Linked DNA regions of Homo sapiens. The protein of the gene in region 1 purifies or fractionates together with the protein of each later gene. This does not show direct contact. Each region holds a gene or a part of one and is shown on either strand. Other genes may lie near its edges.

Evidence for each region. Proteins that work in one complex are often made in the same cells at the same time.
Region 2: the proteins of OPALIN (region 1) and WDFY3 purify together in Homo sapiens (co-immunoprecipitation; 2 studies listed by BioGRID and IntAct, with this or other methods). This does not show direct contact.

The regions. Positions count from the first base shown.
Region 1 is NC_000010.11:96,355,538-96,361,606, forward strand, and holds the start of OPALIN (opalin), read right to left. Parts: upstream 3,466-6,069; 5' UTR 3,360-3,465; coding exon 3,357-3,359; intron 1,623-3,356; exon of another isoform or gene 1,373-1,622; intron 1-1,372. UniProt on the Homo sapiens protein: Central nervous system-specific myelin protein that increase myelin genes expression during oligodendrocyte differentiation. Promotes oligodendrocyte terminal differentiation.
Region 2 is NC_000004.12:84,959,012-84,964,308, forward strand, and holds part of WDFY3 (WD repeat and FYVE domain-containing protein 3), read right to left. Parts: intron 1-5,297. UniProt on the Homo sapiens protein: Required for selective macroautophagy (aggrephagy). Acts as an adapter protein by linking specific proteins destined for degradation to the core autophagic machinery members, such as the ATG5-ATG12-ATG16L E3-like ligase, SQSTM1 and LC3.

The DNA of each region.
Region 1 (6,069 bases):
AGATGAAGAGGCAGCCTGCAAGGCTATTGTCTGAGGGGTCCCATTCACAAGGGCAGCAAACACATGACTAGAAATTCAGCAAAAGGCTAAAATTATGTTTATTCCCTCTAGAACTCCTTTGAGACAGAAAACTGTTGAATTTAGAAGTATTTTGTGTTTTCTCCTTGGAGTAGAAGGTAAGACCCCCAAAGGGCATGGTCTAACAAGAACACCTGATCCTTACCCGGGGAAGGCAAGGCTTCTGTTTTTGCTACAACTGAGGCAGAGGTTCTAGGTTGCTGGAGCTGAAGTGGCCAGGAGGACAGGGGAACAGCAAACCCTTCTCTTTCCTCCCCTCACTTAGTAGATGGTCTCACCTCTCCCGCAAATATGGAGTCCAAATTTAAAGATCGTGGGCTCAGTGGAGCACCAAGTAGCCTGCCCAGGGCCTCAGGTGGCTCCTTTCTCCTCCCTGTCCCTAGCCCCTGTTACTCTAGCCTTTCCAGGCTGCTCCTTACCAAGTCCTTTCCCTACCTAGATTGGAATGATGGGTGGACCTGTTCTGACTCAGCCAGTGAAACTATTTTCCCCTCTTTCCCTGGGTGGAAGTGGTCTTGTTCCCACTTTCTGGACTCTCAGCCCCTTGGGTCCAGCCACCCTGGATTAATACCTCCTGGCTGGGCCCTCCTTCAGCCTCGGTCTCCCTGACCCCCAGATATTTCCCTGGGCTTGGTCTACACCACAGCTTCCCGTCTTTCCAGCATCCCAAGACCAGATTCTGTCATTGTAGAAACAATGCATTCATTAAGTTTTAAAATTAAATGTTATCCAACAATAGGAAAGTTGTGAAACATTAAAGAATCCAAAAGAATCATGTTTCACACCTGAATTACCTGAAAGATCATCTCTCTCAAAACCCTCATTTTCCAGCAGAGGAAACTGAAACCCAGGGACTTATCAGAAATCACCTCATGGACAAATGAGAACAGTTGGAGCCACATAGACCAGCCAATGGGCCGCAGTCTATGTGACTCAACCCCAACCCGAAAGATGGTAACAGAGGATCTCATCCCAACAGAAGCAAACTGACAAAACACCTATTTCAGCTGACTTACTGATGGATTGGAATTCAGATGGGTTAATGAACAAGAAAATCTTTTGTGAACCAGAAGTGTTTTAAGCACCTAGAATGTGTAAGTCCCCCTAGCTTTTGCCCCAAATATTATGTCCTTCAATCAACGTGGCCCTGCTCAACTAGCACGCTTCAGTGGTGCCTCTGCTCACTTCTCCCCCTCTTGGCAATAGGACACCCGCATTTTATAGAGAATAACCAAGCCTCAAGAATTTGAACAGGTTTCCCAAGTCCAAACAACTACTTAGCTGTCACCAGAACCTGAGTGTCCCGGTGACAACCTCTTTCCACCACTCTGCAAGGCTTCCAAGCAACTCCAGTAGTCTCTGTGGATGAATCAGAGCACCCAGGCTGACAGCACTGTGCACCTCTGCTTCTGGGATGACGGTGGAACACAGGGACGTCTGGGCCTCTTAGGTCAGGGTCCTCTTGCTCAAGGGACCTAACCACTGCTCTTCACGCTAGCACCAGACCAACACGTGCTGCAAGGACACTGGATGGTCGCTGCACTGAATGCAGCTGCCCAGAGCTTTATCTCATCAGTGGGCACTGAGGACTGATGTCAGCAGCCCTAAGACAAAGCTTCCTTTGGGAGGACAGTAGAAGAGGGGGTGCAGCAACAAGTGGGCCATTGCATGTGTTGTTTATCAACATTCGGATGACGGAGATTTTGGCCAATTTCAGAAAGACACTCATATTTTGTAGAAACACAGTACAGTGCTCTCATGGAGAGAAAAACATCGCACAAATTAGGGTGGAGAAGAATCTGATGCAGTGCCCTTCAGAGACACAGCTGAGTGGGATGATGCAACCCTGAGCTTGGAGCCACCTGATCTAAATTCGAGCCCACACTTAGCCACTTAGGAGCTGTGTAGTCTTGGATAAGTCACTCAAACCCTCTGGTCTCCATTTTCTCACAACAAATCTATTCTCCAAGGCTCAGTTTTCCCATTCTCAAAATGGGATACTATTAACTTGCCTTGCCCACTTCACAAGGGAATACCGTAATGTCATCTGTGGCAGCTCCTTTCTCCCAAACTGTAAAACACCCTCTGTGTTTTAGGGATCACGTGGTAGCATATTCTTTATGGCCTGGCCAGCACAGAGCTAAGGATAGGAAAGTTCTTGTGGAATGGAATTGCAAGCATGAGTTAGTGATAGTCAAAGTACTAGAATTGGATACAATGCAATTATTGCTTACTGCTAGTCTGAGCACTATGCAGTATCTACACAATGATTCTGAAGGCATTTTGGGATCTCAGTGGCTGAACGTCCTTCATTATAAGTTTGCAGTTTGTGAGAGGAAGGAGGAAGAGACAGGATAAAAACTTACTGCTGTTGAAGGTGTGCTGGGTATAAGACCCCATACTCACAACCTCCCCATGAAGGGAGCACTATTATTCCTATATTATACCTGTGGAAACTGAGACCAAGATAGGTTTTTGCTCACCAGCTTTTAAGTGGTAGAGATCAGGTTAGATCACAGATCTCCCTAACTCCACAGACTGAGCTCTACTCCTTTTAACAATGCTTTTTGTAAAAAAAAAAAAAAAAAAAAAAAAAAAAAATTCCACAAGAAAGTGAGATTACACAATATTCTTCTTTTTGTGTCTGGCTTATTTCACTTAGCATAATGTTCTCCAGGTCCAAATAGGACAAACATGGCAAATGGCAGGGTCTCCTCCTATTCTAAAGCTAATATTCAGTTGTATATATACATATAAACCACAGTCCCTTTATCCATTCATCCACTGATGGACACCTAGGCTGTTTCCATAATTCTTTAGTAAATCACAGAACCCTCTTGTTTTCTCTTCTAACTTAGCAAACTTCATTTGATTGAGTCACAACAAAATATTTATCACAAGTAAACAAGAAAGATGGAAAATTTCTGATCAATGATGACCATCCATGTTGCTGATGATGGAACAAAAAGCCAGATTAAACAAGTAAGACAGATAAAATCGTTGATTAGATCCATTGCTTCAACTAGAAAGGGAACATAGGTGAAACATCTACTCTGTACTCTTGTATGTGGGGTTTTAAAAACAAACCTTAATACCAAAATGAAAGACAAGATCAGCAAATATTAGGTGAGAAGTTTAAAAAATTATTGGTATTTTGCATATAGGAAAATAATTTAAAATAAAGTCCCTTTACTTCATTGTACATTTAATTGAATTTGGAGGTTTTTTATAGTAAGAAATGAAAGTTCGATTGAGAAGAGATGCCAGCTTTCACTCACCATTTCTGACAGTCTCCCAGGAACCTTCTTCGTACACTGCCTTTGGTAAGCTCCTTTCTCACTGGCTTTATTGGCTTGTGTCTTTCATTTGTAGGAACAGTTAACTGACAAAGCTGCAGAGGCAGGCTGAGAGGTGGCTCCAAGAGAACCCTGGCCAAGCCATTTATGGTCAGGGGAGTAGCCAAGCCCTCAGTCCATCCCTCGGGAAAGATGGGCTGCTGCTGCATGGCCGACGTGTATGGCCTGGTTCACCCACCCTCTTTGCCTTGATTTTCTGTCCTTACTTTTCAGGCTGCTTTCTTGGCTATACCTCCATCTCAGCAAAGAAGCCACAGCTGGCCTGAGAGCTTGGGGGCTTCTGCAGCCTGCAGCCCTTTGGAAACAATGGGTTACATGAGGCTGAGGCTGGCCACTCCATCCCCAGCTGACGGGAGTCCACATTAACCATGTTACTGATAATGATGGAGTCATTGTGTTACATGGACAACAGCATGGACATTCGGGATGTCTGGAGGAGGGGTGGGGGCCCATTCTGTTGCAGGAGTCACACTGCTGGGGGCTCCAGCTGCTGCAAGGTGCTGCACTCAGTGGCCAATGAGCTGCCTGGTGTGAGTTCAGCCTCACCCCCTCTCTGTTTTTGTATTTTGGGTGGGAAGCTCTCTAGACCTGGAGGAAGCCATGGACTTGGGCTGCTTTATAACTTACAATTTCCCTGTTAGGGATTTGCCTCTTTAAAATGGTGAATGAGTTGCTAATAAAACAACAGAATTAAACCAATAATTTGGCCATTGAAATGAAAACCACTGTGAGAGGAGCAGATAGGAGTGTAAGGAGAGAGCGACTCAAGTGACAGAGGAGGCCGTTGTTTAGATGACTCTGGGAGATGGCACTGAAGCTGTGCGTGAAAGATGAGAAGAGGGCAGACATGTGAAGGGTTGAGGGAGGAGAGTCCCAGGCAGAAGCCACAGCAAATGCTAAGCCCTGTAAGCTTGGTGCACTCCCAGAGCAGGCAGGAGGCCGGTTGGCTGGAACAACATAAACCAGGGAGTCACCCGGGAAGGGGCTAAGGACGGAGTGAGTTTGAGCCCTTTTGATGTGACATGGGAGGGCATGGTAAGATTTTCATCCTTAGATGAAACCTTTTCCAAGGGTTTTTCAGTGGGAGAGATGCATGATGTAATTGCTGGTGACGAGGATTGCTAGGGCTTCTCTGTGGAGCCAAGATTACAGGGGAAGAGAGTGGAAGCAGGTGGCTGGCTAGTGGAGTCCAGGTGAGCGATGAAGGTGGCTGCTGTAGGAAGACAGCAGTGAATGATTGTGCTCTCTACTGTGGAGGTGGAGCCACTGGGATTAAATGATGAAAAAAATATGGGGCGGGGAAGGGCGAGGTGAGGGAAAGAGAAGAATAAAGCCAACTCCTGGGTTTGAGGCTTGACTAACAAAAATGGAGATGCTATTAGCTTAGGCAGGTAATACTGGAGAAACAGATTGCCCTTACACCTGAGTAGCCTAGGGGCTGTCCAAGTGTGGGTGCCAAGTAGGCGACTGGATAAAGGGGATCTGGGGCTGAAGACATCCGTTTGGGAGTGGCCGGCCTGTGGATGGTTTTAAAGCCCCCGGTGTGCATGAGCAGGTAGACAGGGCAGAGGGCCAGGACAGCTGCCAGGGGTTCACAGACATTTAGCAGCCTGGAAGAGGGGGTGTCACTAGCAAGGAGAGTTGAGTGAGGCAGGAAAATCAGATAAGTTCGGGGGTCACAGGAAAGAAATTTGATTCAAGAAGGGGAGTAGATGTTGGTTAATTGTATCAACTGCTGCTGAGAGGTAGCCTCCGAAGAGGTCAGAAGAGCCTTCTGATTCCCAGTATCGGGGTTGCTGGTGGCCTTGACAAGAGCAGTTTAGTGGCACAGTGGAGACCAGATTGCCTTTAATCAGGTGGTTTTTCCATCCTGGTTGCATACCTGAATTACCTAGGGAGTGGTAGGGGGCTGGTTATAAAAACTCTTGATGCCTAGAACCTGCCCCCAGAGACTCTGACTTGATTGATCAGAGTGAGGCAGGGGCATCCCCAGGGGACGCTAACGAGCAGTCAGGGGTGACAGCTGCTGTTCTAATCAGTTCTTAGACTGTGGTAATCAGCCACCTGCAACATGGCCGACACTGATGCTATCCTAAACAAGACCAATGAGGCCTCTGCCTTGTGGGCTTCCAGTTTCCAAGACTCCACAGTGACAGCCTAAACTGAACCTACTGGTGACAACATGGTCTAGAGAGACCTCTGTTTAGAGCCACAGCTGCCCTACTGGAAGCTGCATGGTCTTAGGCAAGTGAAATAACTTCTTCCAGTCTGAGTCTTTTAATCTACAAAGCAGGGATGATACAATTTATGCAATTAGACTACTTGAATCAGCACAGCTCGTACAAATGATGCTTTTAATTTTCCTTGACTGGCGTAGAATCAACCTGGACCATAGAATTCCAGTTTATGGCCCCAGCACTCTCTGGCAAGGCTGTTTGTGGATGGGGAGGGCCACTGAGGTCCTTTTTGGCACTTTTGTTTGCTGTGCATCCACTGATCCATAACTCTGCCTTCTGATGGACACATTATCTCTTTAGAAGAATTGTTGACATCTTCAGGCAATTGGTACCCCTGCCTAAGTGTCCATCAGTCATGACTGCCCAGTCACAAGCATCAAAACCAGACTCTGCTTAAT
Region 2 (5,297 bases), on another chromosome or scaffold:
TATAATAATTGACAATTATTGACAGTACAATTGACAATAGTAATACTTGTTATCTACTCCCCTCACCACTAGAATTTAAGCTCCCTGATATAGCGCTATCACCCAGCACTGTGCCTAACAGACAGCAGACACTCAAGTCTTTTTTTAAAAAATGAACAAATGAATGGCTGTCAGAGATGTGACTGGAGAAGCTGGAGCCAGGTTACAAAGAGTTTTTTATAGACTGCAACCCCATGTTTTAGCGCCTCTTTGATAATGACTTAAGATCTATTCAAGAATTTTAAGCAGAAAAAAAAAGGTATACTGGAAAGACCACAATTTCACATTTTAAAAAATTAAAACAAAAAACAATTCATTTTGGAAAGAGTGTGAGGGTAATCTATGAGAAGACGTGAGACTGCAGTTAAGTAGAATATTTAAAAGACCTCTCTAATACTTCAGCAGGGAAATACAGGCCCCAAAATTGTCTTCTGGCAGGTGGAGGTTGAAAATGATAAACATTTAGAAGATAAAAACAACTGGACCTGATGCTTAATTAAATGTGAGACGTGAGGAAGACTGAGGAGTGGATGATGACTGCCAGTCTCAATCTAGTGACAGAACAGGTGCTAACAGCATTTACTCAAGCTGAGGAGATAGGAGAAGAAAATACATTTTGGAAGAACGATTATGAGTTACATTTGGGCCATGCTGAGGTTGACATGCCTGTGTAAATATCTCAGCAGATATGTCTAAACCAGCAGTTGGACATATCCCAGCAAAAAATCAGTGGTTCAGATGTCATTAATACTTGTCACACAAACAAAACTTGATGAACTTCATGGCAGCAATAAAAATCAAATACACTTAACTAGGAATAAACATTACAGTATTAGATGAGAATTAGCCTAAATGTTAAAAAAGGAAGGCTATAATCTTATCTATATTAACGCTTCTTACAAGATCTGGGGATGAGTTCAAAGATAATATGATCGAATTATGTCAGTCTATGAATGTTAGAAATAAGCAAACTACCAAAAAATACCTCAATAGTATAGTAAATGTTTGTTTTTTTGGTTTTTACCCTAGTTTTACTTCCCATTAACCTTCCTAATTTCAACTGAGATTGGGTAGGGGCAATAAATGTAGGCTTTAGAGGCCTGTTATTTGAAAATAATATTCCTGATATGTTTGCTATTTGCATTTTCTCTCATCTCTGGATAACTGCACATTCTATTAATGCTACACAGCCACTTCCCCTAACTACTCAACCTCCAGATTTCTCAATGAAGACAATGCTTCCTCCTGGAAGTCCTTCCAAACTTTGAAGTCTGAGTTCCATGCCCACCCCACCTCCACACCATATGTACCTACCTACAGCATCCACACCTCACGTATGTGATACCCTATTCAACAGTCTCTTCCACTCAACTGTAAGCTCTATCATGATAAGGACCTTGAATACTACATGCACAAGACATTCGTGTATGTATACGAACAAATGTATGAATCAATGACTGAACAAATTATCTATTTTCCGTGAGAACTGTTGAGATGTTTAAACAAACATCTTTCATTATTACGGGGTACTCAAACTGTGAATATAGCTATTCTTATTTACAGTCTAACATGACTATGTATTTTACAAGGTACTCTTCTTATTTTAAAAAAAAGAAGGGGTCTCACTATGTTGCCCAGGCTGGTCTCGAATTTCTGAGCTCAAGCAATCCACCCACCTTGGCCTCCCAAAGTGCTGGGATTACAGATATGAGCCACTGCAACTGGCAGGTTACTCTTCTAAGGGTTTTATTTCATATCATCTTCTGAATGAATGATATCTTATTCCAACGGGGCAACCCAGTATTCTACTACTGAAAATTAAATGTTGATATGAGCTATGTGTAATTTAATCCTTTGTCCACACTAAAACTACGTGAAATTTCAAAGACAGATTTTGGCCAGGCACAGTAATCCCAGCACTTTTGGGAGGCCGAGGCGGGCGGATCACAAGGTCAGGAATTCGAGACCAGCCTGGCTAACATGGTGAAACCCTGTCTCTACTAAAAATGCAAAAATTAGCCGGGCGTGGTGGCGGATGCCTGTAATTCCAGCTACTCGGGTGGCTGAGGCAGGAGAATCGCTTGAACCCGAGAGGTGGAGGCTGCAGTGAGCTGAGATCATGCCACTGCACTCCAGCCTGGGTGACAAAAGCAAGACTCTGTCTCAAAAAAAAAAAAAAAAGATTTTGATACTGTGGTTTCAGAAAGAGTAGTAACTAACTTGACAGTCCTCAAGATTTTAAAATAAAGAACAATTCAATGAGTTTACAGAACTTGGTGAAATCCCATCAAAGCAAATTGTTGGCATACAGGGAGCCACAAAGAATCTTTTTTTCCCTTTAAGTCCAAGTAAAATTGAAAAAAAAAATTCTTTATGATAAATTTTTTAATTCTAATTTTCTAAACAAAGCTTTATCTACCTGTTTAAAATGGTTCATTTTTTAAATTGCTAACAGCTAAGCATTAGAATAATTCCCTAATGATTATTCCTTTACAAAAAGTAATTTTAACAACATGAAAGATGAGTGCACAGTAAAAACTCAACAAACAGCCTTTAAAGGCTGCAGCCTTCATAGTGAGATCATAACTGATGCCCAAGCTAAAGAAAATTATTTTTTTATAAATATCTATCATAAACTTTCTATACTGAGTCTAAACACTACTGAAAATAAGAGTAAAAAAATTTAAAGGAGATCACTACACATATAATAAATGGCTAAAGTTTTAATAACTGACAATACCAAGTGCTGATAAAGATGTAAAGCAACTGAAACTCTCAGATATTGCTGTAGGAATGTAAAATGATATCACCATTTAGGAAAACAATTCAGTAGTTCAATAAAAAGGTTACTGATATTAATAAATATACACTTATCCTAGGACTCAAAAATCCCACTCCTAGGTATTAACTCAAGAAAACTGAACATTTTTGTCCCTCACATAGACCTGTATGCAAATGTTTATAGCAGCTTTATTCATATTTGATCAAAACTAGAAACAACTCAAATGTCCATCAGTTTATGAATGGATGAACAAATTGTGTTACCCTGGTGTAAAACAATGTTACTCAACAAAAAAAGGAACTGTGCTGGAGCTGGCTGGTACCAGCTCATGGGAGCCCATTGTTAAATTTTCAGGAATTCTGTAAGCTGGTAGCTTAATTTAGGCCATAGTGACAGTGTTTACACTACAATGATTAGCGAATGCTATAAATCAGAGATTCTTTTTTTTTTTCTGAAGAGTATGTTGTTAAGACATTTCCCAGCACATCACTGAACAAAATACTGACACATGTAACAACTTAATAAATATCAAGCATTACGCTAAGTGCAAGGGAACACGAAAGGCTACATAATGTATAATTCCATTTATATATGCCAGACGAGATAAAACTTTAAGAGCATCAATTAAATTAACGGTTTTCAGGGGCTGGGAGTGTAGAGGTAGAGGACTGACTCATGACAGGGCATGAGTGAACTTTTTAGAGTAACGGAAACGTCCTTTTCTATGTCTTGACTGTGGTGGAGACTATCCAATTATAGACATTTGTTAAACTTTTACTTTCACTACATGTAAATTATGCTTCAATAAACATTACTCTAAAAAATTAAAGTAGGAGCCATTTCTTTTTTTTTTTTTTTTGAGATGGAGTCTCACTCTGTCACCCAGGTTGGAGTGCGGTGGCGCCATCTCAGCTCACTGCAACCTCCACCTCCCCAGTTCAAGCGATTCTCCTGCCTCAGCCTCCCGAGCATCTGGGACTACAGGTGCACACCACCAGGCCAAGCTAATTTTTGTATTTTTAGTAGACACGGGGATTCACCATATTGGCCAGGCTGGTCTTGAACTCCTGACCTCAGGTGATTCATCTGCCTCGGCCTCCCAAAGTGCTGGGATTACAGGTGTGAGCCACCATGCCCGGTCGCCATTTATTTCTTAATCATTTCATGGATGATAAATACACCACACACACCAAGGGGGAACTGGATTTATCAGTGTAAATATCAGGAAGGCAGATTTTGACTCGACATAAATAGAAATATAGATTTAAAATGTAAAAACAAACAAACAAAAAAACAAAAAAAAAAAAACGGCCTGGCACGGTGGCTCACGCCTGTAATACCAGCATTTTGGGAGACAGAGGCAGGCAGACCACTTGAGCTCAGGAGTTCAAGACTAGCTTGGCCAACAGGGTAAAACCCCGTCTCCACTAAAAATACAAAAATTAGCCAGGCGTGGTGGCGAGGGTCTATAGTCCCAGCTACTTGGGTGGCTGAGGCACGAGAATCTCTCGAAACCCGGGAGGCAGAAGTTGCAGTGAGCCCAGATGATGCCACTGCACTCCAGCCTGGGCAACACAGCAAGACTCCATCTCAAAAGAAAAAAAAAAAAAGGTCAAGAAAAAAAAAAGAAGAGGGGAAATTCGTAATCACAGGAAATACTAAAATCAGAGGTGGATGATCCTGCCAAAGATGCTGTAGAAATGACCCTAGTTCGGGTGTGATTTCAGACTAGCATCATTAACAGAGGTTAGTATCATTAAGATCTCTTCATACTGGGGGTCCAGGGCTCTAAAATCTTATGATATTGTATGCTATGATAATCTCAGATATACTTTGCAATTCTAACTAAAACATCAATTACTTATTTTAACATCAATCAAATGGTATTACCGATCAAAGTCTAGTATACCCTGTTTATGAATGCTGGCTCTAACTTCAGACAGTCTGGGTTCACATGTTGGCCCACCAGTGTTTGTATGACTTTAAAACAACTTGTTCTATTTCCCCATCTGTAAAATGGGATTAATATTTTCCTTCGATTTAAATGAGAATGTGTTAGAAACAACGTCTATGTGCTGAACTCTTAATCACAAACATTTCTTGGGCATAATCAGAAATGAAGGACATAAATCATCAAATGTAATTTAAAAATTTTAGCTTTCCAAATATGGAATATGTATTCTTTAATTTTATATCTAGAAGTTCATAATCTTTTACAGACCCATATCCTTTTGAGAATGTGATCACCCAACAGAGTCTTTATCTAGGAAAAAAGCAAATATATGCTATATTCTGCATATGATTTCTGGGAAGCCAAGGACCCTCAGAAGTATATGCATGAAATTAAGAAAGAAGCAGGGCATGGTGGCTCACATCTGTAATCCCAGCACTTAGAGAGGCTAAGGCAGGAGGATCACTTGAGGCCAGGAGTTCAAGATCAGCCTGAGCAACACAGGGAGACCCTCATCTCTACAAA